Linked DNA regions of Homo sapiens. The protein of the gene in region 1 purifies or fractionates together with the protein of each later gene. This does not show direct contact. Each region holds a gene or a part of one and is shown in the gene's direction. Other genes may lie near its edges. The genes, in order: FSCN2, QRICH1, TBC1D22B and SPECC1L.

Region 1 (5,715 bases):
AAAACCAGTGTTGCCCAGACCAAGGCGGACTCCACTCCTCTCCTATTTTGAGGCCATGTCCCCGGAAGCAGGTGGCTGAATGAGTAGCCCCAGACAGCATCCTGTCTGAAGGGGGTGTGGGGCAACTCTGGGGACACCAAAGTGCTGGCCTGGGAGGTGCAGTGGCGGGGGGAGCCCTGCGATGCTGTGGCTTCCTTCAGTGCCCGCAGGGACGGCGTTCCCACACCTCTCATGGGCCCCTCCTGCGGGCTCCTGCTGCCCCCGGGTACCGTGTCAGTGTTGCCCTCCACTGGGCCCAGGCAGCTGCTTTTAGTTCAGTATTTGCCAGGATCTAGAGCTGGTGGCAGTGGGGATGCTGGCACGAATACTCGGTCACAGTGCAGGGGACATGCCGGGTGCTCCTCTGCGTCTGATCAGTGATGAGTGTGAGGGAGATCCCAGCCTGGGGCGTGAGGGGCAGCTTTGGGGCTGGCAGAAGGCAAAAGGTCCCAAGCTGTCTGGCATGGTCACAGCCTGGCATCCTCTCCCCTGGGCACAGCGTGGGATGGGATCTGGCCCCACCCTCAGGCCCTGTGGGGGCTCTGCCCACCACTCCCTCCCAGTCCCCAGCTGGACAGGCCACCAGAGTCCCTGGGCCTTGTGGGAAGCTCCGCAATCTGACACACCACTCCCAGTGTCTGGCTGCCATGCAAACAGGGAGGTGGTTTGTGGGAGGAGCCAGGGACTTAGTTCACAGAAGATCCTGGGTAGGCTCTGGTGCCTGCTGTCCCCATGCTGGGCATGGGTGCCCCTCCATCCCCTCGCAGGAACCCCAGATGGAGCCCGGGGCAGTCTTGTCCTCCCCCAGGGGTCCTGGGAGACCAAGCACAGATGGTTGGGGAAAGCTGCAGAGGTGACAGGGACCAGCCCCTGGCTGGAGCCCAGGGGTGCCCCATCACCATCCGCACCATCCCCTTCATTAGGTCCTGCCTGTGCCCATCCAGCAGCTTAGGGTGAGTTATAAATAGAGGCTGGGGTAAGCCCTGGGTCAAGAGAGCAGGGCAAGGAGATTACCAGCTGATTACTGATTAGCAGAGAGTGGGGGCTGTGCCAAGCAGAAGGGCCTGGCTCCTGGGGGTGTGGAGGGAGGTCAGGGCTCCCTTGGGGACAGTGTGCAGGGTCCACAGACGGCACATATGGCCCTGGGGCAGGGTTCCCAGGGTCTCTGAGAGGTGCCTTCCAAATCTTCTCAAGTCAAGAGGGTTCTAGATGAGACCCACCTCTGGCTTCAGGGGTGCCCCCCAAAATATGCCCCCTCCCCTGCTCCCTACCCAGGAGAGGCGTGAGGGGCTTCCCCATCTCCTCCCTCCAGGGGTCAACGTCTCAGCCAATCAGGATGATGAACTAGACCACGAGACCTTCCTGATGCAAATTGACCAGGAGACAAAGAAGTGCACCTTCTATTCCAGCACTGGGGGCTACTGGACCCTGGTCACCCATGGGGGCATTCACGCCACAGCCACACAAGTGTGAGTGCACACATCCCTTCCTCCTCCATCATCCCCATCCCCACCATCACCATCCCCATCATCACCATCCCCACCATCCGCATCCCCATCTCCATCCCCACCACCCCCACCCCCACCAGCCCCATCCCCATGACCACCATCCCCATCTCCACCATCTCCATCACCATCATCGCCATCCCCATCCCCATCATCACCATCCCTATCACCACCATCCCCATCATCACCATCCCCACCATCCGCATCCCCATCTCCATCCCCACCACCCCCACCACCACCAGCCCCATCCCCATCACCACCATCCCCATCTCCACCATCTCCATCACCATCATCACCATCCCCATCTCCATCACCACCATCCCCATCACCATCCCCATCTCTATCTCTACCATGCCCATCACCATCATCACCATCCCCATCTCCACCATCCCCATTACCATCTCCACCATCCCCATCTCCATCCCCACCATCCCCATCTCCATCCCCATCTCTGCCATCCCCACCATCACCATCCCCATCTCCATTTACATCCCCATCCCCATCCCCCTCACCATCCTCATCCCCATCCCCCTCACCATCCTCATCCCCATCTCCACCATCCCCATCTCCATCACCATCCCCCTCTCCATCCCCATCCCCATCTCCATCACCATCCCCCTCTCCATCCCCATCCCCATCTCCATCTTCACCATCCCCACCACCGTTCCCATCACCTGCACCATCACTCCCACCACCATCACTGCCTCGGCCATGAGGATTGCCGTAGCAGCTCAGTCAGAAAGGAAAGCCCACTGGGGCAGGGTAGCGCCTGATGGTGGTGGGTGTGTCAGTGGAGGGCAGGCTTCTGTCCCACTCCTTGGAACCTGAGGAGGATGGGGAAGTGAGACCCTGCACCCCCATCTCCTGCTGTCCTGAGGAGACCTTTTGCTGCTCCCTCCAGTTCTGCCAACACCATGTTTGAGATGGAGTGGCGTGGCCGGCGGGTAGCACTCAAAGCCAGCAACGGGCGCTACGTGTGCATGAAGAAGAATGGGCAGCTGGCGGCTATCAGCGATTTTGTCGGTGAGCACTCTGCCTGCCAGGTACTGGGGCAGGGGCTGTCTCCACCCAGGGAAAGGACCTGCCCAGACACCCCATCTCCACCAAGAGCTGGACCCTCCCCAGCCCACGGAACGGGTGCTGTCATGGAGTCATACTTGCTAGTCAAGATAACTCGTCTTGGCAAGGGAAACAGGTCTGAATGTCCTTATCTCCGCTGCTGGGAACCCCCTAGGCGCCTTGCCAAGGCCGCACATGAGGCAATGGCAGGCCTGGGTCCCTAAGTCCAGGTGTGGCGTTTCCCAGGGCCCCCACCCCGCCCGGCCTGGACAGGGAAGGTGGCGGGAGGGGCAGCGCAGCAGACGCTCTCCCCGCCAGGCAAGGACGAAGAGTTCACCCTCAAGCTCATCAACCGGCCCATCCTGGTGCTGCGCGGCCTGGACGGCTTCGTCTGCCACCACCGCGGCTCCAACCAGCTGGACACCAACCGCTCCGTCTACGACGTCTTCCACCTGAGCTTCAGCGACGGCGCCTACCGGATCCGAGGTGCGTGGCGGGGCGGGTGGGCACGCGGGAGCGGGGGTGGCAGCGGGCAGGTGGGCACCCCCGCCGACGCCGTCCCGTCCCCCAGGCCGCGACGGAGGGTTCTGGTACACGGGCAGCCACGGCAGCGTGTGCAGCGACGGCGAACGCGCCGAGGACTTCGTCTTCGAGTTCCGTGAGCGCGGCCGCCTGGCCATCCGCGCCCGGAGCGGCAAGTACCTGCGCGGCGGCGCCTCGGGCCTGCTGCGGGCCGATGCCGACGCCCCGGCCGGGACCGCGCTTTGGGAGTACTGAGGCCGCGCCCAGACCAGCCTGTCGCGCATTAAAACCGTGTCTCTCCCGCAGCTGTGGGTGGGCCCCGGGGCGCCGCTTGGGGGTCCTGCAGCTGGAGGTGGAGGAGGCCCACAATTCTCCCCAAACCAGAGAGAGCCCAGAACTTCCCAGTGCCCAGGGACTCCCGTCTGGGAGGTGGTCTTGTGGATGGGCCGGGTGACCCAGGCCGCTGGAGGGGAGGTCTCAAGGACATGGGGAGGACGGGGACTGGGGGTGGGTGGGGGACTGAGCCTGCGCGGGTTGAGGCCACCAACACCGACCACAGATGACCTCACTGGACACCGCCCCTCCCCAACCTAGGTCCTCAACCCTCCCTAGCCCCCGGCAGCCCCTGCGGTGCTCGTCCTTCCTTGTGCACTGCTCAAGGCCAGGCGAGTGGCAGAGGGTGGGGGAGAGCCAGTCCTGGGGAGGTGGGACCAGCACGGCCAGCAAGGGGAGGAACTGGCTGGGATGCCCCTCCACTAAGCCCACCAGCCTTAGGGACAAAGAAGGGCAGGTTTCCATGGTAAGAGGCTGGAACTCCCCGAGCCACGTGGGCAAGGCGGGTCCGAGTTAACCCTTGGAGGACCAGGTGCCACCTGGTCCAAGTTGGCAGGGAACGGCAGTGACCCTGGAGCTCGGGCTGTCCCTGCAGCCTGCAGTGTCCCCTGGTGGCAGCCAAGGTGAGGTGGAGTCTGTGGCTGGGGCGGGACTGGGGGCACCAGGTGGAACCGCAGTGGCTGGCACTCAGCACCTCCAGGCTCCCCGCTCAGCAGAGCCTCGGAGAGGGTCTGTCTCCCTGCACTGCCCTGCCTGACGTGAACTTGGCCTGCCACTGCGGGAACCCCCACTTCCGTCCACATCCACAGCCTGGGGCACGGCGGGAGGCAGAGGCTAGGAAGCGGAGGGTGGGGTGGGAGGTCAAAGAAACCCTTTGGAACGGAATAATGGCTGGGCCTGGAAGCGGGGGGCCCACTGCTGCTGCTGAGGCAGGTGCTACTCCATGCAGAGACAGCTGCCAGCAGCTGCCAGGTGGCGTCTAGCACATGCTCCTAGGAGGAGGGGGAAGAACAGCTGCTCTCACCCCACGTGTGAGCTGGGTTGAGGGTCATGCAAGGCTACGGTGTCAAGCCAGGATCGGAGTTGGAGCAGGTGGAGGAAGCTGGAAAGGTCGAGAGGCCGCCCCTGCCACCGGGGAAGGGCCTCACGTAGTGAGAGCTCAGGTGCTGAGAGCCCAGGAGGTGTGCACTGAAGAGGTGAGGGCAGGGAGGCCCAGGATGGGCGACAGGGCCCGGCCACACCGTGGTCCGCAGGCTCCCCGAGAAGCTGATTGTGGACCTGCCACCTGCCTCTGAGGCCAAGCCCTCCTCAAATGCCGAGTGTTGAGAGCAGGTTCCTTGGAGGTGCATGTGAGTTGGGTACATTTCGCCCAGTCCCTGTACACTCTGGCGGCACAGCGGGGCTGGGGACTGCCCACTGTGGTCCCTCCTTTCCTGCCGCTGTAGATCTCCTTTTTGTTCCACGTGACCTGCTCTCTTGGCCCCTCAGGGTCTGCGTCGCAGCTTTCTTTTCGGGGGGACCACATGGCGTCTTGAACTAGGCGTCCCCACAGCAGGATCTCAGGCTGGCAGGTGGGCATGAACATTTGTAAACACACCAGCACTGATGCCTCCACATGGGTGGCCCTGGAGAATGCCCCAACAGAGGTCAGGACAGCTGGGGACGCCGTCTCAGCCCTGGTGGCCAGCACCGCCTTAGTTCAGGAGGCTGCAGTGCCAAGGACAGCAAGCTATCTAAACCCCCAGTGTGTGCCCGGGGGTGTGGGGACACCAGTGCGGCTCATCCCTGTGTCTGCTCTTTCACAAGCCACAGTGGTGCCCCCACACCCCCTGCACAGCTGAGGCTGACAGGGTTGGATGGTGCCACTGCTCTGCACAGACAGCAGCCCCGTGGAAGGCCCCTCAGGCTCCCAGCCTCCTGAGACCTGCTGGCATCCAGCTGAGGGTGGGGAGATGAGTCCTGCAGGCGACCCAGATCTGTCAGCTCTGGGATCCCTGTGGCCTGTGATGGCGAGTGAGGGGCTGGCACAGCCCTGGACACACACCCCTCCCCCAGGCGTGTGAACACAGACCCTGCACAGTCCTCCGCCCGCTCATCTAGGGCCTTCTTGGGAGTCCCCACGGGCTGGTCTAGCCCCTCACTCTCCGAGCCCTGATGCTCAGAGCAAGACACGGGCACAAGCGCTGTACAAAGGTCAGAGCCAGAAGCTCCTGCCCACGGGTGGCAGAGGACAGCCCTGGAGCACAGCAGGGATGGG
Region 2 (6,088 bases), on another chromosome or scaffold:
TCAGGTAATTGGGATTACAGGCATGCACCACCATGCCTGGATAATTTTTTATATTTTTAGTAGAAGTAGAGGTGGGGTTTCACCATGTTGGCCAGGCTGGTCTTGAACTCCTGGCCTCAAGTGATCTGCCCTCCTCAGCCTCCCAAAGTACTGGGATTACAGGTGTGAGCCAATGCACCTGGCCAGGCATTAGATTCTAATAAGGAGCATGCAGCCTAGATACCTCACATTTGCAGTTCACGATAGGGTTTGTGCTCCTACAAGAGTCTAATGCCACCATTGATCTGACAGGAGGTGGAGCTCAGGTGGTAATGCTCACCTCTGTGCTGTGTCGTTCGCCTACGGACCAGTACTAGTCCTTGGCCCCAGGGTTGGGGACTTCTGCCCAAAAAATCAGGCTGGGGGCTGGGTATGGTGGCTCACGCCTATAATCCCAGCACTTTGGGAGGCCAAGGCTGGTGGATCACCTGAGGTCAGGAGTTTTGGACCAGCCTGGCCAACATGGTGAAACCCCGTCTCTACTAAAAATACAAAAATTAGGGCTGGGTGTGGTGGCTCACACCTGTAATCCCAGCACTTTGGGAGGCCAAGGCAGGCAGATCACGAGGTCAGGAGATCAAGACCATCCTGGCTAACACGGTGAAACCCTGTCTCTAATAACAATACAAAAAATTAGCCAGTCGTGGTGGCGGGTGCCTGTGGTCCCAGCTACTTGGGAGGCTGAGGCAGGAGAATGGCATGAACCTGGGAGGCGGAGCTTGCAGTGAGCTGAGATCACACCACTGCACTCCAGCCTGGGCGACAGAGCGAGACTTGGTCTCAAAAACATATATATGTATATATAAATTAGGTCTGGGCGTGGTGGCTCACGCCTGTAATCCCAGCACTTTGGGAGGCCGAGGTGGGCGGATCATGAGGTCAGGAGATCAAGACCATCCTGGCTAACACGGTGAAACCCTGTCTCTACTAAAAATAAAAAAATCAGCCGGGCGTGGTGGCACGCACCTGTAGTCCCAGCTACTCGGGAGGCTGACACAGGAGAATCGCTTGAACCGGGGAAGTGGAGGTTGTAGTGAGCCGAGATCGCACCACTGCACTCTAGCCTGGGCGATAGAGCGAGACTCCGTCTCAAAAAAAAAAAAAAAAAGTTAGCTGGATGTGATGGCAGGCACATGTAATCCCAGCTACTTGGGAGGCTAAGGCAGGAGAATAGCTTGAATCCGGGATGCAGAGGTTACGGTGAGCCGTGACTACCATATCACTCCAGCCTGGGGAACGAGCGAAACTCCATCTCAGAAAATAAATAAATAAGGCTAGGCATGGTGGCTCAAGCCTGTAATCCCAGCACTTTGGGAGGCCAAGGTGAGCGGATCACAAGGTCAAGAGATCGAGACCATCCTGGCCAACCAACATGGTGAAACCTCGTCTCTACTAAAAATACAGAAATTAGCTGGGGGTGGTGGCATGCGTCTGTAGTCCCAGCTACTCAGGAGGCTGAGGCAGGAGAATAGCTTGAACCCAGGAGGCGGAGGTTGCAGTGAGCTGAGATCATACTACTGCACTCCAGCCTGGTAACAGCGAGACTCTGTCTAAAAAAAAAAAAAAAAAATTAGCTGGGTGTGGTGGTGGTGTTCCTGTAGTTCTAGCTATTTAGCAGGCTGAGGTGGGAGGATCACTTGAGGAGTTTGAAGTTTAAAGTGCCCTATCATCTTATCACGGTACTCTAACCTGGGCAACAGAGCAAGACCCTATCTTTAGAGAAAAAAACGGTCCCTTGTGATGGCTCACGCCTGTAATCCCAGCACTTTGGGAGGCCAAGGCGGGCGGATCACGAGGTCAGGAGATGGAGACCATCCTGGCTAACATGGTGAAATTCCATCTCTACTAAAAATACAAAAAAAAAATTAGCCGGGTGTGGTGGCAGGCACCTGTAGTCCCAGCTACCCGGGAGGCTGAGGCAGGAGAATGGCGTGAACCCGGGAGGCGGAGCTTGCAGTGAGCTGAGATGGCACCACTGCACTCCAGCCTGGGCGACAAAGCGAGACTCCGTCTCAAAAAAAAAAAAAAAAAAGAGTGAAACTCCATTTCAAAAACAATTTTTAAAATGCTGGCCGTGGTGGCTCACGCCTGTAATCTCAACAGTTTTGGAGGCCAAGGTGGGCGGATCACTTGAGGTCGGGAGTTCGAGACCAGCCTGACCAACATGGAGAAATCCTGTCTCTACTAAAAATGCAAAATCAGCTGGGCATGGTGATGCATTCCTGTAATCCTAGCTACTCAGGAGGCTGAGGCAAGAGAATTGCTTGAACCCAGGAGGTTGAGGTTGCAGTGAGCCAAGATCATGCCACTGCACTCCAGCCTGGGCAACAAGAGCAAAACTCCGCCTCAAAGAAAATGGAAATAAAAATGCCGGCCGTTTCGGCTCACACCTGTAATCCCAGCACTTTGGGAGGCCGAGGTGGGTGGACCAGTTGAGGTCAGGAGTTCAAGATTAGCTTGGCCAACATGGTGAAACCTCGTCTCTACTAAAAATACAAAAATTAGCTGGGTATGGTGGCACATGTCTATAATCCCAGATACTCGGGAGGCTGGCTTCAAGAATTGCTTGAGCCTGAGAGGTGGAGATTGCAGTGAGCTGAGATGGCACCACTGCATTCCAGCCTGGGCGACACAATGAGAATTTGGGGAAAAAAAAAAAGAACCAAAGTTTTGATATTTCCTTGTTAGACTCCAGCATGTCTGTAATCCCAGCTACTCTAGGAAGCTGAGGCAGGAGAATCGCTTGATCCCAGCAGGCGGAGGTTGCAGTGAGCTGAGATTGCGCCACTGCATTCCAGCCTGGGCGACAGAGCGAGTCCATCTTAAAAAAAAAAAATTTTTTTTTTTGGTATTTCCTTTTTAGGCCCCAGTTAATTGTCTTGCTTGCTCTCTGGGGTGGATATATGTCCCTGTTATTGTAATGTGCTGCTGGACAATCCTGGATCTAGTCTTACGTATTGTGTCCTTCTCAGAAGCCTTGAGTATGCCAGTGTTTTCTCACATTTTGCAGGTCCCCTGTCTGGGATCTCTTTTCTTTCTTTCCTTGGGTACTGGATTTTCAGTGCTGCCTGGTTCACTCACTGATGAATCTTGTTGCTTACAGGTCCAGGTGCAGGTACAGCAGTCTCCGCAACAGGTCTCGGCTCAGCTCTCCCCACAACTCACCGTTCACCAGCCTACTGAGCAACCCATCCAGGTCCAGGTGCAGATCCAAGGCCAGGCACCACAGTCAGCAGCCCCCTCCATTCAGACCCCGTCTCTGCAGAGTCCCAGTCCCTCGCAGCTGCAAGCAGCTCAGATCCAGGTGCAGCACGTGCAAGCAGCCCAGCAGATCCAGGCTGCAGAAATCCCGGAGGAGCACATCCCACATCAGCAAATCCAGGCTCAGCTGGTGGCTGGCCAGTCTCTTGCTGGTGGTCAGCAGATCCAAATCCAGACCGTGGGTGCCCTTTCCCCACCACCATCCCAGCAGGGCTCACCCCGGGAAGGGGAGCGGCGGGTTGGCACGGCCAGTGTCCTCCAACCAGTGAAGAAGCGCAAAGTGGACATGCCCATCACTGTGTCCTACGCCATCTCAGGGCAGCCGGTGGCCACCGTGCTGGCCATTCCACAGGGCCAGCAGCAGAGTTATGTGTCTTTGAGGCCAGACTTACTGACAGTAGACAGTGCCCACCTGTACAGTGCCACTGGGACCATTACTAGCCCTACAGGAGAAACCTGGACCATCCCTGTTTATTCTGCCCAGCCCCGGGGGGACCCTCAGCAGCAGAGCATTACCCACATTGCCATTCCCCAGGAAGCCTACAACGCAGTTCACGTCAGTGGCTCACCCACAGCCCTGGCAGCTGTTAAGCTGGAGGATGACAAGGAGAAGATGGTGGGCACCACATCTGTAGTGAAAAACTCCCATGAAGAGGTAGTGCAGACCCTTGCAAACTCTCTCTTTCCAGCACAGTTCATGAATGGCAACATCCACATTCCAGTGGCTGTGCAGGCTGTGGCAGGCACGTACCAGAATACGGCTCAAACTGTCCATATATGGGACCCCCAACAGCAGCCGCAGCAGCAAACTCCCCAGGAACAGACACCACCACCACAGCAGCAGCAGCAGCAACTCCAAGTTACTTGTTCAGTAAGTGAAGACTTATCAGTAGGGCAGGCAGCCTGGTCCCTCAGGGCCCAGTGCAGCACAGAGCTTGCCTCGCAACCTCTGGCTTATTTACTGCTGTTACTCTTACAGTGATGCAGTATTTAGTATTTGGGAGAAGAGGGGGAGAAACATCACGTGAGGCTATGCAACAGAAAAAAGAGTTTATCCTGGTACCTGGAGGTAAATGAGATGGCCAGGAATTGCTTTGGAGTTTTGGAGACATTTTGGGTTTAAGTACCATGGACACTTCTTTGTAATCTCTTCTCAGGAAGAGTAAAGTTACAGGTGTAGATGAATGGGACACCTCAAGTGTGTCCCAGTGCTGTTTCCTTGTATCATAAGTAAATGGTTTTAGCAAAACACTTGTAGTTTATCACATAGATTACAAACTCATCACTGGAGAGGCTGTGAGATTGTTCATTCTGTTTTTCATCTTTGGGCACACAGTGTGGGTGAATTAGAAAAGCTAAAATAACTCATAAGGAGCCTGTTAAAAGTGATCACCATTGGGAGGCTTGAATATGCCGTCTATGTGGTGGGACCTCCCAAGAGTTTTTGTGTTACGGGGGCGGCCGGGCGAGGTGGTGCACTTCTGTAATCCCAGCACTTTGGGAGGCCGAGGCAGGCGGATCACAAGGTCAGGAGTTTGAGACCAGCCTGGCCAATATGATGAAACCACGTCTCTACTAAAAATACAAAAATTAGCTGGGCATGGTGGCAGGTACCTGTAATCCCAGCTACTCGGGAGGCTGAGGCAGGAGAATCACTTGAACCCAGGAGGCAGAGGTTGCAGTGAGCTGAGATTGCGCCATTGCATTCCAGCCTGGACAACAGGAGCAAAACTCTGTCAAAAGAAAAAAGTAGGGGCCAGGCACGGTGGCTCATGCATGTTACCCCAGTACTTTGGGAGGCCAAGGCGGGTGAGTCACCAGAGGTCAGGAGTTTGAGATCAGCTTGGCCAACATGGTGAAACCCCGTCTCTACTAAAAATACAAAAATTAGCCGGGTGTGGTGGCACACACCTATAATCCCAGGTAATCCTACTCAGGAGGCTGAAGCAGGAGAATTGCTTGAACCTGGGAAGCAGAGGTTGCAGTGAGCTGAGATCGTGCCACTGCACTCCAACCTGGGGCAACATAGCAAGACTTTGTCTCAAAACAAACAAACAAAAAAACTATTAGTGCTGGGTGCAGTGGCAGTTGCCTGTAATCCCAGCAGTCTGGGAGGCTGAGGTGGGAGGAATGCTTGAGCCCAGGAGTTTGAGATCAGCCTGGGCAATATAGGAAGACCCTATCTCTACAAAAATTTAAAAAATATAGTCTAGTGTGATGGCACATACCTGTGGTCCCAGCGTAGATGCGAGGGTTGCATGAGCCTGGGAGGTTGAGGCTACTATGATCATGCCATTGCATTTCAGCCTAGAGAACAGAGTGAGACCCTGTCTAAAAGAACTGATTGGTAAAATATCTGGTCCCGTTAGAGTGGGATATAGGGCCTCTGGTCTTATGGGACTGATGAAGGTGCTATGCCTCGGTGGGCATAGGCTCCTGAGCATGCATATGTTTGTGGGAGCTGGTACAAACAAGTTAGATAAGGGACTGCACTTGGAAACATGGGCTGTAAGTGATTAATTAAGCAAAGGTTGACCAGGTGGTTTCATAGAGGCAGTATCATATTATCCTAGGTGACATTGTTAAGGACCTGCTAAATATCTAGCTGTTGGGCCTAGAAATAGAATAAGAGAAGGTTTTTTGCTTCATATAGCTTAGAGTCTAGTTGTGAAAAGTAAGAACTCAGGATTTCTTTTCCTTCGAATTATTTATAAGGCAGAATAATTATGACATATACACAAAGACAAACTGGGAATTTAGAAATTCTAGGTTAAGAAGTCAACAGAGG
Region 3 (6,088 bases), on another chromosome or scaffold:
TTTTTTTTTAAGCGAGAGAGAGATGAGGGTCAGTAGTGGCTAGGTAAGAGCCTTAATTTTTTTTTTTTTTTTAAATGAAATAGAGACAAGGTCTGACTGTGTTGCCAGGGCTGGTCTCTGACTCCTGGCCTCAAGTGATCCTCTTGCCTTGGCCTCCCAAAGTGTTGGGATTACAGGCGTTAGCCACCATGCCCCACCAAGAGTCTTATTTTATTAAGGATTCTAGTAGACATATGGAGAATAGGGTGGAAATCAGCTTTTAGTAATACTTATTAAAGTAATAGAAAGGAATGCAAAGATAACTTCAGATTAAAGTGCTGTGGACTCAACAGTGTTAATATTACTGTTAAAGATGTTCTGTGTTTTTAGGTAAGCACACTTCCTGCCAACTGATTCCTTTTCCTTCCTGGTCTAGTGAGCTCTCTAGTTGTGCTAACTGCTATTCTCTGGGGTTTTCCGTAGTGAGATCATTAAATTTTGACATCCTAAGATTATAATCATAATCAATAGGAAGACTGTTGTATCAGGAAGCAGTGTAAGAGATGTGGGACGTGGCATGGGCTTCTGTGCCTTCTGACTGCTGGTTGCTATTAACAATCTTTTTTTCCTATATTTCCTGTATTTGGCTATAAGAACAGTCAACTTTTTTAAAGCACTACTTTTCTGAGATAGGAAGAGAAGTCTTTTCAGTTTCTTCAAGTTTCTGGATTCCTTTTTCATTTTGAAGAATATAGAGAAATAGAGAACTTTCGAGTTCAGAAAGACTTGGGTTACTATTTGGGCTCTGTTGTGTGTGTGACCAAGACAAATAATCTTTCTAGGCCTCAATTTCCTTACCTATGAAATGAGAAATAAAAATACTTTCCTCAGAGTTACTGTGGGGACTAAGTGAAATACCCTATTTGTAAAGAGCCTAGGACAGTGTTTATTTAGCACATTATAGTTGCTCAAAAAAACAGTAGTTATTAACATTGCTGTCATTATTACAGCAAGTAAACATTTAAAATAATGTTACTCAGATCCTTACCCCAGCTCATTGTCTTCGTTGTTTAAGGTATTCAAATATTGTCACAATTCATAATAGTTTTTAGTACCTTACTTGGTAAAGAGAAATACTGTTCAGCTGTGTGCTTTTAGCAGTGAAGCCCACAAGCCTCTGGTCATAGGAGAAAACTAAGGTTCTTTTAGATAGAAAGGTACTTTGGTTTAAAGAAAATGTTAGGGCATTTTCTCAAGAATAGAACTTTTGCATCTGTACTCTTTCGGTCTTAGAGAAGAAAAACTTTCTCCTGGGTGGGGAAATGACACAAATGACTCTACTGGATGCATGCAAACTTGGAAATGAAACTAGTTTACTCTTCTTTGCAAATTGAAAGGTGAAAAATAAAAGCGATGACAGGGTTCTTTCCATTTGTCTGATCATGATCCAACAATCTTAGTGACAACAAATAGAAATTTTATTAAATAAAAGAAGTTGCAAATGAATGAAACATTCTTTTTAAAAATAACAGCTTTATTGAGATATAATTCACATACCATAAAATTCACTCTTTTAAAGTGTACAATTCAGTGGTATTTAGTATATTCATTTATAGTATAGATGGTTTTGTGCAACCATCACCACTAATTTCAGAACATTTTCATCATCCTGAAAAGAAACTACATACCTGTTTACAGTCACTCCCCATCCACCCCACTCCAGACCCTGGTAACTACTAACCTACTTTCTGTTTCTGTGGATTTACCACTTTTGGACATTTTATATATATGGAGTAATATGATCTGAGGCCTTTTGTGAGTGGCTTCTTTTATTAAGCACAGTGATTTCAGGCTTGTCCACGCTGTAGTATGTATCAGTACTTCATTCCATTTTATGGCTGAATAATATTCCATAGTATACATACACCACATTTTGTTCATTCATCAGTTGATGGATATTTGAATTGTTTTCACTTTTGGGCTATTGTACGTAATGCTTTTATGAACATTTATGCAGAGGTTTTTGTTTGGATATATATTTTCTATTCTTCTGCTGATAAATAGGAGTGGAATTGCTGGGTCATGTAGTAACTTGGTGGAACTAAGCATCTTTTAAGTTCTCTCAGTTATTCACATGAGCCCCATTTACTTAGCACATCAAATGGTCATTGTATTAATGCCTAGAAGATAAGAGGCAATCTCTACCATTGCAGGCTTTGGCAGGTGTGGTGGCCTGTAATCCCAGAATTTTGGAAGGCTGAGGCAGGTGGATCGCTTGAGGCCAGGAGTCCGAGACCAGCCTGGCCAACGTGGTGAAACCCCCCATCTCTACTAAAAATACAAATTAGCTGGGCTTGGTGGTGTGTGCCTGTAGTCCCAGCTACTCAGGAGGCTGATGCCCAAGAATCTCTTGAACCTGGGAGACGGAGGTTGCAGTGAACTGAGATTGCGTCACTCCACTCCAGCCTGGGCAACAGAGCAAGAGATTGTCTCCAAAAAAAAAAAAAAAAAAAAATGCAGGCTCTGAAATCTGACTGCCTAGGTTAAAATCCCAGCTCTGCTTTCTAGCTATGTGATCTTATGGGATTTAATTAACCTCTCAATGCATCAGTCTCCCCATCTCTAAAATAGGGACAGAGTATCTGCTCCATGGGGCTGTTATGAGGATTAAATGAGATAATACATAATAATTGGTTAGGAGGTACACAATAATATTAGCTATTATAAGAAGGATAGTTACGATGATAGTAGCTATCATTTTTGTTTTCTCTCCTTGCTTCAGTTTTTGAAACTGAAATTGAAAAGCTTTGATCTGGTTGGGTGTGGTGGCTCACACCTGTAATCCCAGCACTTTGGGAGGCTGAGACAGGTGGATCATTTGAGGTCAGGAGTTCGAGACCAGCCTGGCCAACATGGTGAATCTCCGTCTCTACTAAAAACACACAAAAAAATTATCTGGGCTTGGTGGCACAAACCTATGGGGGAAAAATAAAAAAGCTTTGGTCAGTGTGTGTGTGTGTGTGTGTGTGTGTGTGTGTGTGTGTGTGTGTGTGTGTGTCTAGAGCTCGGGCACAGGAGAAAAAAAAAATCACCTTTTTTTTTTTTTTTTTGAGATGGGGTCTCCCTCTGTTGCCCAGGCTGGAGTGCAGTGGCACGATCTCAGCTCACTGCAGCCTCTACCTCCCAGGATTAAACGAGTCTCCTGCCTCAGCCTCCTGAGTAGCTGGGATTACAGGCACATGCCACCATGCCCAGCTAATTTTTGTATTTTTAGTAGAGAAGGGGGTTTCGCCATGTTGGCCAGGCTGGTCTTGAACTCTTGACCTCAAGTGATCTCTTGACCTCAAGCCCACCTCAGCCTCCCAAAGTTCTGAGATTATAGGTGTGAGCCACCGTGCCCAGCCCTGGCTAATTTTTGTATTTTTTGTAGAGACAGGTCTTGCCATGTTGCCCAGGCTGGTCATGAACTCCTGGGCTCAAGCAGTCTGCCCACTTCATCCTCCAAAAGTGTTGGGATTACAGGCATGAGCCTCTGCGTCTGGCCAAAATCGAAATTACCTGAGTCTTCCAGGCCCTTCGTTGTTAGAAAGAGAGGCCAAGTTAAGAACTTGAAGCCGATCCTAAAATAATAATGAATCTGATAGGAGACTTAGTGTAAAAGTCACAGCCTGTCTGGGCAGGTACATTACAACTTGTTCTTGGCTTGGAGATGTTTTACTGGTAGAGTGAGTGACTAGAAGATACTAAATTATCATCGAAACAGCATAGATCACCTGTTCTGGAAGACTAATGTGGAGTGAGTGTGTGAACCTACATCAGTTGCCAACACGTTTGGCATTTAAATTTGATGGGTCTTTTTCCCATATTTGCACTAGCTCTTTTATCAGTGCTAAACAAACACCTGTTGATTTTTCCTACCAAGATGTTTGCACTGTTTCAACTAGGCAAAACAGCTATGTCAATACATTCTATGGTGTTGGTTTTATTAAAGAGAGTGACGGAGATTAATCAGAACTTTTGTTCCATTTTGTCTGCGTGGCAGCATATTCCATGGCATTCTTTTCTCTGCATATGTGGTGTGATTTCTTCGAGATGCAGTGTGTTAACTAACCTCTGGTTTTTAGGTCTAGCTTAAGTGGAGGCCTAGGTTTTGTAGAGATCTAATCTTCACTTACTAAATATTGTTAAGTGCCTGCTGGTATGTGTCATGCTCTGCCAGGTGGCAAGGGGGCTACAGAAAAAGATATGGCACCACTATGGCTTTCTAGGAGCTAAAAAATCTGCTTGGCATCATGGCTTCCCCTGGAGAAGATGCTGTGTATGATTGACTTTCTGGTTTTTCCACTAAACATATGTTATATTTGTAATCAGACAAACTTAAAAGTGGAATTGGGTGAAAACACATTGTTGAATGCAAAGAGCAAGATGTAGAAAGATATGTGCAATGTGCAGTCTTTTATGTGAAGTTTAAAAACATAAAAAATACTGTGTGTTGTTTATGGATCTGTGAATATATGTAGAGGAATAAAAACAGATGGGAGGAGTTCCCTCCAATTTCAGAATAATTGTTATCTCTTGGGAAGTGAAGAAACAGGACTAGGGACTGCAATTAGGGCATCAGTAGTCTAACACTTTGTTTTTGTTTTGTTTTGTTTTGTTTTTTTGACATGGAGTCTTACTCTGTTGCCAGGCTGGAGTGCAGTGGCCCGATCTCCGCTCACTGCAACTTCCGCCTCCCGGGTTCAAGCGATTCTCCTGCCTTGGCCTCCCGAGTAGCTGGGACTACAGATGCGTGCCACCACACCCAGCTAATTTTCTTGTATTTTCAGTAGAGATGGGGTTTCACCATTTTGGCCAGGATAGTCTTGATCTCCTGACCTCATGACCCACCCACCTTGGCCTCCCAAAGTGCTGGGATTACAGGCGTGAGCCACTATGACCGGCCTAACACTTTTTTTCTTAAATGAAATGTGACAAATGTTAACATTTGTAAATCAGAGTGATGGGTTTGTGGATGTTTATTATATCATTTTCTGTACTTTTCTTTGTGTTTGAAAATGTCAATTAAATGCTTTTTCACTTGTGTTAGAGCAAATGTTTTGTATTTTTTTTTTTTAACTTGTGTTGGAGAGATCAGCCAGTTAGCCATGGAATTAAGTAAAATTTAAAGTAACATGATTTAGAGTCAAAATAAGTCATATTTACAGTGTGATGTTATTTATATAAAGTTTAAAAAACATGCAAAATCATACATTATTTAGGGATACATACATAGAAAATAAAAATATAAAAATGAGTGTGAAAAATGCCAGATCCAATAGAGTGGCTTGCTAGGAAGGGAGGGAGGGGTATGCCAGGGTGTTTTGTTTTGTTTGGTTTTGTTTTGTTTTTGACACGGGGTTTCACTCTTGTTGCCCTGGCTGGAGTGCAATGGCACGATCTCGGCTCACCGCAACCTCTGCCTCCCAGACTCAAGCAATTCTTGTGCCTCAGCGTCCTGAGTAGCTGGGATTACAGATGTGTGCCACCAAGCCCAGCTAATTTTTATTTTTAGTAGAGATGGGGTTTTGCTGTGTTGGCCAGGCCAGTCTCGAACTGCTGGACTCAAGTGATCTGCCTGCCTCGGCCTCTCAAAGTGCAGGGATTACAGTGCCCAGCCCTGATTGTGTCTTATATTATGATCTAAATCTAGTTTATTTTTAAAAAGTAATATAAGCCCTAATTTATGTATGTTAGGGAACTAGAGAAGACATGAGTTAGTAGATGCTGGGGGTAGGGGTATGGAAAGTTTCATGAGGGGTGTAGAATTTGAAGAGAATGTTGCAGGATGGATACAATTTTGAAAAGGGATGTAGAAAATAGAAAAGCATTCCAAGTAGGGAAAAGAGCCTTATTTAATAATGGGTTTAATAAGTTTGGAAGGTGGAGTGGAGATCAGTCTTTCTTAGAGCTGAGTTTGGGTTTGGAAGGAGTAGGTATGGTACAGACAGTGAAAGGTGAATTATAAATGTCAGGAAATTGAGCACCTTAATCATTGGGCTCTTCTGGTCTATCTCCATTTAGTCTCTGTGATCATCTCGGTTTCTCTTTTCTAAATTCTTGCCTGTCT
Region 4 (6,088 bases), on another chromosome or scaffold:
CGGGCGGAGGGGCTCCTCACTTCTCAGACGGGGCGGCTGCTGGGCGGAGGGGCTCCTCACTTCTCAGACAGGGCGGTTGCCAGGCAGAGGGTCTCCTCACTTCTCAGATGGTGCGGCCGGGCAGAGACGCTCCTCACATCCCGGACGGGGCGACAGGGCAGAGGCGCTCCCCACATCTCAGATGATGGGCGGCCGGGCAGAGACGCTCCTCACTTCCTAGATGGGATGGCGGCCGGGAAGAGGCGCTCCTCACTTCCTAGATGGGATGGCGGCTGGGCAGAGACGCTCCTCACTTTCCAGACTGGGCAGCCAGGCAGAGGGGCTCCTCACATCCCAGACGATGGGCGGCCAGGCAGAGACGCTCCTCACTTCCCAGACGGGGTGGGGCCGGGCAGAGGCTGCAATCTCGGCACTTTGGGAGGCCAAGGCAGGCTGCTGGGAGGTGGATGTTGTAGCAAGTCGAGATCACGCCACTGCACTCCAGCCTGGGCACCATTGAGCAATGAGTGAAGGAGACTCCGTCTGCAATCCCGGCACCTCGGGAGGCCGAGGCTGGCAGATCACTCGCGGTTAGGAGCTGGAGACCAGCCCGGCCAACACAGCGAAACCCCGTCTCCACCCAAAAAATACGAAAACCAGTCAGGCGTGGCGGCGCGCGCCTGCAATCGCAGGCACTCGGCAGGCTGAGGCAGGAGAATCAGGCAGGGAGGTTGCAGTGAGCCGAGATGGCAGCAGTACAGTCCAGCTTCGGCTCGGCATCAGAGGGAGACCGTGGAAAGAGGGGAGAGGGGAGAGGGAGAGCCAGATTTTCTTTTTTATAAGGATTTTTGATTTAGATAAGGATGTGGTACCACTTGCAGAACTAGGGAAAGGAATTAATGTTGGGGAAAAAAGTTACCCCAGCCAGGTGCGATGGTGCACGCCTGTAATCCCAGCACTTTAGGAGGCCAAGGTGGGCAGATCACTTGAGCCTAGGAGTTCAAGACCAGCTTGGGCAACATGCCCAATGTGGTGAAACCCCGTCTCTACAAAAAATACAAAAATTAGCTGGGTATGGTGGCGTGTGCTTGTAGTCCTAGCTACTCGGGTGGCTGAGGTGGGAGGATCACCTGAGCCTGGGAGGTAGAGTTGCCGTGAGCTGTGATGGCACAACTGCACTCTAGCCTGGGTGACAGAGCCTCAAAAAAAAAAAAAAAGTTATGCCATCTTTTTCCATTTTTGGCCTCCGTATACAGTTGTTTATCCCAGTCTGGTTACTCTTGCCTTTGATATCTGTCACAGATTTCTTGCCTCTTCTCTGTTCTTACTGCCGCCCCTGAATGTGGGACCTCTTTTACCTCATTGATCTACCTGCCCACATTCCTCCTCTGCTGCTCTGCTTTCTTCCTTATGTATTCCACTTAGAATCTGTATTAGTCCATTCTCATGCTGCTGTAAAGAACTGCCCCAGACTGAGTAATTCATAAAGAAAAGAGGTTTAATTTACTCACAGGTCCACAGAGATGGGGAGGCCTCTGGAAACTTAGAATTATGGTGGAAGGGGTAGCAGGCACATTCTTCTCCACATAGTGGCAGGAAGGAGGAGAATGAGAGCCAAGCAAAGGGGAAGCCCCTTACCATCGGCTGTCATGAGAACTCACTATCACGAGAACAGCGTGAGGGTAACTGCTTCCATGATTAAATTACCTCCCAACAGGTCCCTCCCGAAACACATAGGGATTATGGGAACTACAGTTCAAGATGAGATTTGGGTGGGGACACAGCCAAACCATATCAGTATCCTCTAGATTAATTTTCATAAAATGTACTTTTCCTTACATTTCTTTCCTACTCAGGATCATTTATTGACTTAGTGTGACTCACTGAATTCTGCCTATCTTTTGGGACTCTATATGAACATTCCCCAGCAGCTTCCGTTAACTGTGTGACTGTACTTTTCCTTTCTGTGTGCCATGTTCACTTCTGCTTCCTTTCGTTGTCTGTCTTTTTGCCAGCCTGAATTCCGCATCCTCCTGTATACCTGTTCTGTTAGTGGCTATCTCCCTCTATCTGTGGAGATCATTTGCTCCCTGTTACCTCTACAGCCTGGATCCCACCACCTAATGAACCAGCAGGGTCTTTAAAAATACTTATTGATTAGATGTGGATCTTATTTTTTAACATAAAAATTTGTTATTTCTTAAGTATTTACAGGTATTTAAACATATTCCTGGCCAGGTGCGGTGGCTCACGCCTGTAAGTGCGGTGGCTCACGCCTGTAAATTCAGTGGCTCACGCCTGTAATCCCAGCACGCTGGGAGACCGACGCGGGCAGATCATTTGAGGTCAGGAGTTTGAGACCAGCCTGGCCAACATGGTGAAACCCTATCTCTACTAAAAATACAAAAAAATTAGCCAGGCATGGTGGCACGCTCCTGTAATCCCAGCTACTTGGGAGGCCTAGGAAGGAGAATCGCTTGAACCTGGGAGTCAGAGGTTGCAGTGAGCCGAAATCGCTCCACTGCACTATAGCCTGGGTGATGGTCAAGAGAGACTCCATCTCAAAAAAAACCAAAAAAACGAACAAAAAAAACTTCCTGTTCTTTTTGTATTAAACAAATGATTGTGTCAGTTTTCACAGGTTTAAAATTTTAGTAGTTAAGTAATCATGTGATTCACGTAGATTTGATTGACGCATCATCATTATTTAACATTAGTGCTTCGTTGTTTTTTACATTTAGAGAGACAGTATAACATACTGGTTAAGGTGCAAAATCTGGAACCAGACTGCCTGGGTTTCAATTTTGGCTCATCTATTTATTACCTGTGACATGTTGGCAAATTATTTAACATCTGTGTCTGAGTTTCTTCATCTGTAAAACAAGGTGATAATAGCACCTACCTCACGTCTTTAATGAGGCTTATATAAGTTAATGTATGTGAAGTGTTAATGTATTTGTATAACCAAGTGCTAGGTATGTGTTAGCTATTGTTATAATTGTTATTATTTATGTGGCATTTTATGGTGTTAAAACTATTTTGCATTTACTTTGGTCAGAGTAAAATTTTTGTGTTTCTAGTAGGTAGCTTAGATTTTTGGTTTTCCCAGAGACTGCTTTTCCCTTCTTGCCCACCTATGATCTCCCTTCACTATCTGTGTACAGTTAGTTTACCACCGACTGGCTAATCCTGGAGTCATCTTCACCTGTCTTGCCCTAGAATATTATGCCTCTGGCCAACTGGTTAAAACCCCACTTCTGGATTCAAGTTAATGTATATCATTTAAATAACAGCTTTGTAGAAATGTAATTCACATTCCATAAAATTTACTCTTTTAAAAACATGTAAAACAAAGTGTATAACTTATTTCTCCTTGATAATTAAAAGATGAATGATCTTCTGGTTTTGAAGAAATTGAACTTTAACAGACTCTAAGGCAAGATTATTGTAGATCTAAATCATTGTGTAGATCCTGGATTTCATCTCATTACACCTGGGGCAGGAACTGTGTATTCTATGTAGCCTTTTATTGCTGACATTTTTGCCTTACATTTTTTGTATTAAACACATAGGCACAGCTTCTTCAACCAAGCGGAGCACTTCTACAGGTAATAAAGAATCCAGTTCTACTAGAGAAAGATTACGTGAACGTACCCGATTAAACCAGAGCAAAAAACTACCTTCTGCAGGTCAGGGAGCTAATGACATGGCATTGGCCAAACGTTCCCGCAGTCGAACTGCTACAGAATGTGACGTTCGTATGAGCAAGTCTAAGTCAGACAATCAGATCAGTGACAGAGCTGCTTTGGAGGCCAAAGTGAAGGATCTTCTCACGCTGGCAAAAACCAAAGACGTAGAAATTTTACATTTGAGAAATGAACTGCGAGACATGCGTGCCCAGCTGGGCATTAATGAGGATCATTCTGAGGGTGATGAAAAATCTGAGAAGGAAACTATTATGGCTCACCAGCCGACTGATGTGGAGTCCACTTTATTGCAGTTGCAGGAACAGAATACTGCCATCCGTGAAGAACTCAACCAGCTGAAAAATGAAAACAGAATGTTAAAGGACAGGTTGAATGCATTGGGCTTTTCCCTAGAGCAGAGGTTAGACAATTCTGAAAAACTGTTTGGCTATCAGTCCCTGAGCCCAGAAATCACCCCTGGTAACCAGAGCGATGGAGGAGGAACTCTGACTTCTTCAGTGGAAGGCTCTGCCCCTGGCTCAGTGGAGGATCTCTTGAGTCAGGATGAAAATACACTAATGGACCATCAGCACAGTAACTCCATGGACAATTTAGACAGTGAGTGCAGTGAGGTCTACCAGCCCCTCACATCGAGCGATGATGCGCTGGATGCACCATCCTCCTCAGAGTCGGAAGGCATCCCCAGCATAGAGCGCTCCCGGAAGGGGAGCAGCGGGAATGCCAGTGAAGTGTCCGTGGCTTGCCTGACTGAACGGATACACCAGATGGAAGAGAACCAACACAGTACAAGTGAGGAACTCCAGGCAACCCTGCAAGAGCTAGCTGATTTACAGCAGATTACCCAGGAACTGAATAGTGAAAACGAAAGGCTTGGAGAAGAGAAGGTTATTCTGATGGAGTCTTTATGTCAGCAGAGCGATAAGTTGGAACACTTTAGTCGACAGATTGAATACTTCCGCTCTCTTCTAGATGAGCATCACATTTCTTATGTCATAGATGAAGATGTAAAAAGTGGGCGCTATATGGAATTAGAGCAACGTTACATGGACCTCGCTGAGAATGCCCGTTTTGAACGGGAGCAGCTTCTTGGTGTCCAGCAGCATTTAAGCAATACTTTGAAAATGGCAGAACAAGACAATAAGGAAGCTCAAGAAATGATAGGGGCACTCAAAGAACGCAGTCACCATATGGAGCGAATTATTGAGTCTGAGCAGAAAGGAAAAGCAGCCTTGGCAGCCACGTTAGAGGAATACAAAGCCACAGTGGCCAGTGACCAGATAGAGATGAATCGCCTGAAGGCTCAGCTGGAGAATGAAAAGCAGAAAGTGGCAGAGCTGTATTCTATCCATAACTCTGGAGACAAATCTGATATTCAGGACCTCCTGGAGAGTGTCAGGCTGGACAAAGAAAAAGCAGAGACTTTGGCTAGTAGCTTGCAGGAAGATCTGGCTCATACCCGAAATGATGCCAATCGATTACAGGATGCCATTGCTAAGGTATTGTTTAAATAGATTAAAATGTTCCGGACAGCATTAGGCAGCTGCCATGCACAGTGTTTACTGAGAACCTGGGTTACTGGTTTGGTTTGGTGTGTTATTAGCTTTTTTTTAAAACTGATATTTTTAAAACTTGGGAATGGTTTCCTTTTATTGGAATAGTGTGAAAAGTATTCTTAAGATAATGTCACTTTCTCTCACTTGTATTTTGTTTCTGTTTTCCTGCCTGTGAGAGGATATGGCTGGTATTACAGCTAAAACCAGAATTTGTCCCTAGTTCTGAGTATTCCTATGGAGCGGGTCATGAAATTTTACCTCCCCCCGCCTCATCTCGAATCTGTTTTGGTGTAATAGGTGGAGAGTCAGTATTCCAGTCTGTAGCATCAGCAGTGCATGTTTCCTCTTATCTTGCTATAGTAATAGTTTTTCAAATAGAGATCTGTTGATAGTTAAAAAATATTTTTGGCATATAGAGGCTCCTGTTTCTCAGAGGCCTGTGATTTATTGCTGGCAGGGACCTTAGCAATTATCAGTCCAGACCCTTGTTGTACATGCCTCCAGCATAATAGTGAGGACTCAGTTGGAACTGCTACCCAGGGCCACTGGCATTCTGGCCAGGGATCTATCTATACCCCATGTGGTTGCTGATGAACTGTTTATTTCCATGAGTTATTCTAGTTATACTAGTTATTCTAGCTTACATTTTATTTATTTGTTATTTTAGTGCAATGATTTTAAAATAAATTTTCATATATCTTTGGCTAAAATTTGAGTAATTTAGATTTTAGGGTGTTTTTAGTGATCACTTTTAAAGTTACAGTTTAGGAGATTTGTATTAGTTCTTGGCACATACATGTTGAGAGGCTACTGTGAACTAATACTTTTGTAAAAACACTATTTGAGAAT

Evidence for each region.
Region 2: the proteins of FSCN2 (region 1) and QRICH1 purify together in Homo sapiens (affinity purification with mass spectrometry; 2 studies listed by BioGRID and IntAct, with this or other methods). This does not show direct contact.
Region 3: the proteins of FSCN2 (region 1) and TBC1D22B purify together in Homo sapiens (affinity purification with mass spectrometry; one large-scale study listed by BioGRID and IntAct). This does not show direct contact.
Region 4: the proteins of FSCN2 (region 1) and SPECC1L purify together in Homo sapiens (affinity purification with mass spectrometry; one large-scale study listed by BioGRID and IntAct). This does not show direct contact.

What each region holds. Positions count from the first base shown.
Region 1 is NC_000017.11:81,533,701-81,539,415, forward strand, and holds the end of FSCN2 (fascin-2), read left to right. Parts: intron 1-1,351; coding exon 1,352-1,508; intron 1,509-2,445; coding exon 2,446-2,567; intron 2,568-2,849; coding exon of another isoform or gene 2,850-2,921; coding exon 2,922-3,089; intron 3,090-3,174; coding exon 3,175-3,380; 3' UTR 3,381-3,430; downstream 3,431-5,715. UniProt on the Homo sapiens protein: Acts as an actin bundling protein. May play a pivotal role in photoreceptor cell-specific events, such as disk morphogenesis.
Region 2 is NC_000003.12:49,054,945-49,061,032, reverse strand, and holds part of QRICH1 (transcriptional regulator QRICH1), read left to right. Parts: intron 1-3,142; coding exon 3,143-4,171; intron 4,172-6,088. UniProt on the Homo sapiens protein: Transcriptional regulator that acts as a mediator of the integrated stress response (ISR) through transcriptional control of protein homeostasis under conditions of ER stress.
Region 3 is NC_000006.12:37,258,960-37,265,047, forward strand, and holds part of TBC1D22B (TBC1 domain family member 22B), read left to right. Parts: intron 1-6,088. UniProt on the Homo sapiens protein: May act as a GTPase-activating protein for Rab family protein(s).
Region 4 is NC_000022.11:24,317,737-24,323,824, forward strand, and holds part of SPECC1L (cytospin-A), read left to right. Parts: intron 1-3,551; coding exon 3,552-5,182; intron 5,183-6,088. UniProt on the Homo sapiens protein: Involved in cytokinesis and spindle organization. May play a role in actin cytoskeleton organization and microtubule stabilization and hence required for proper cell adhesion and migration.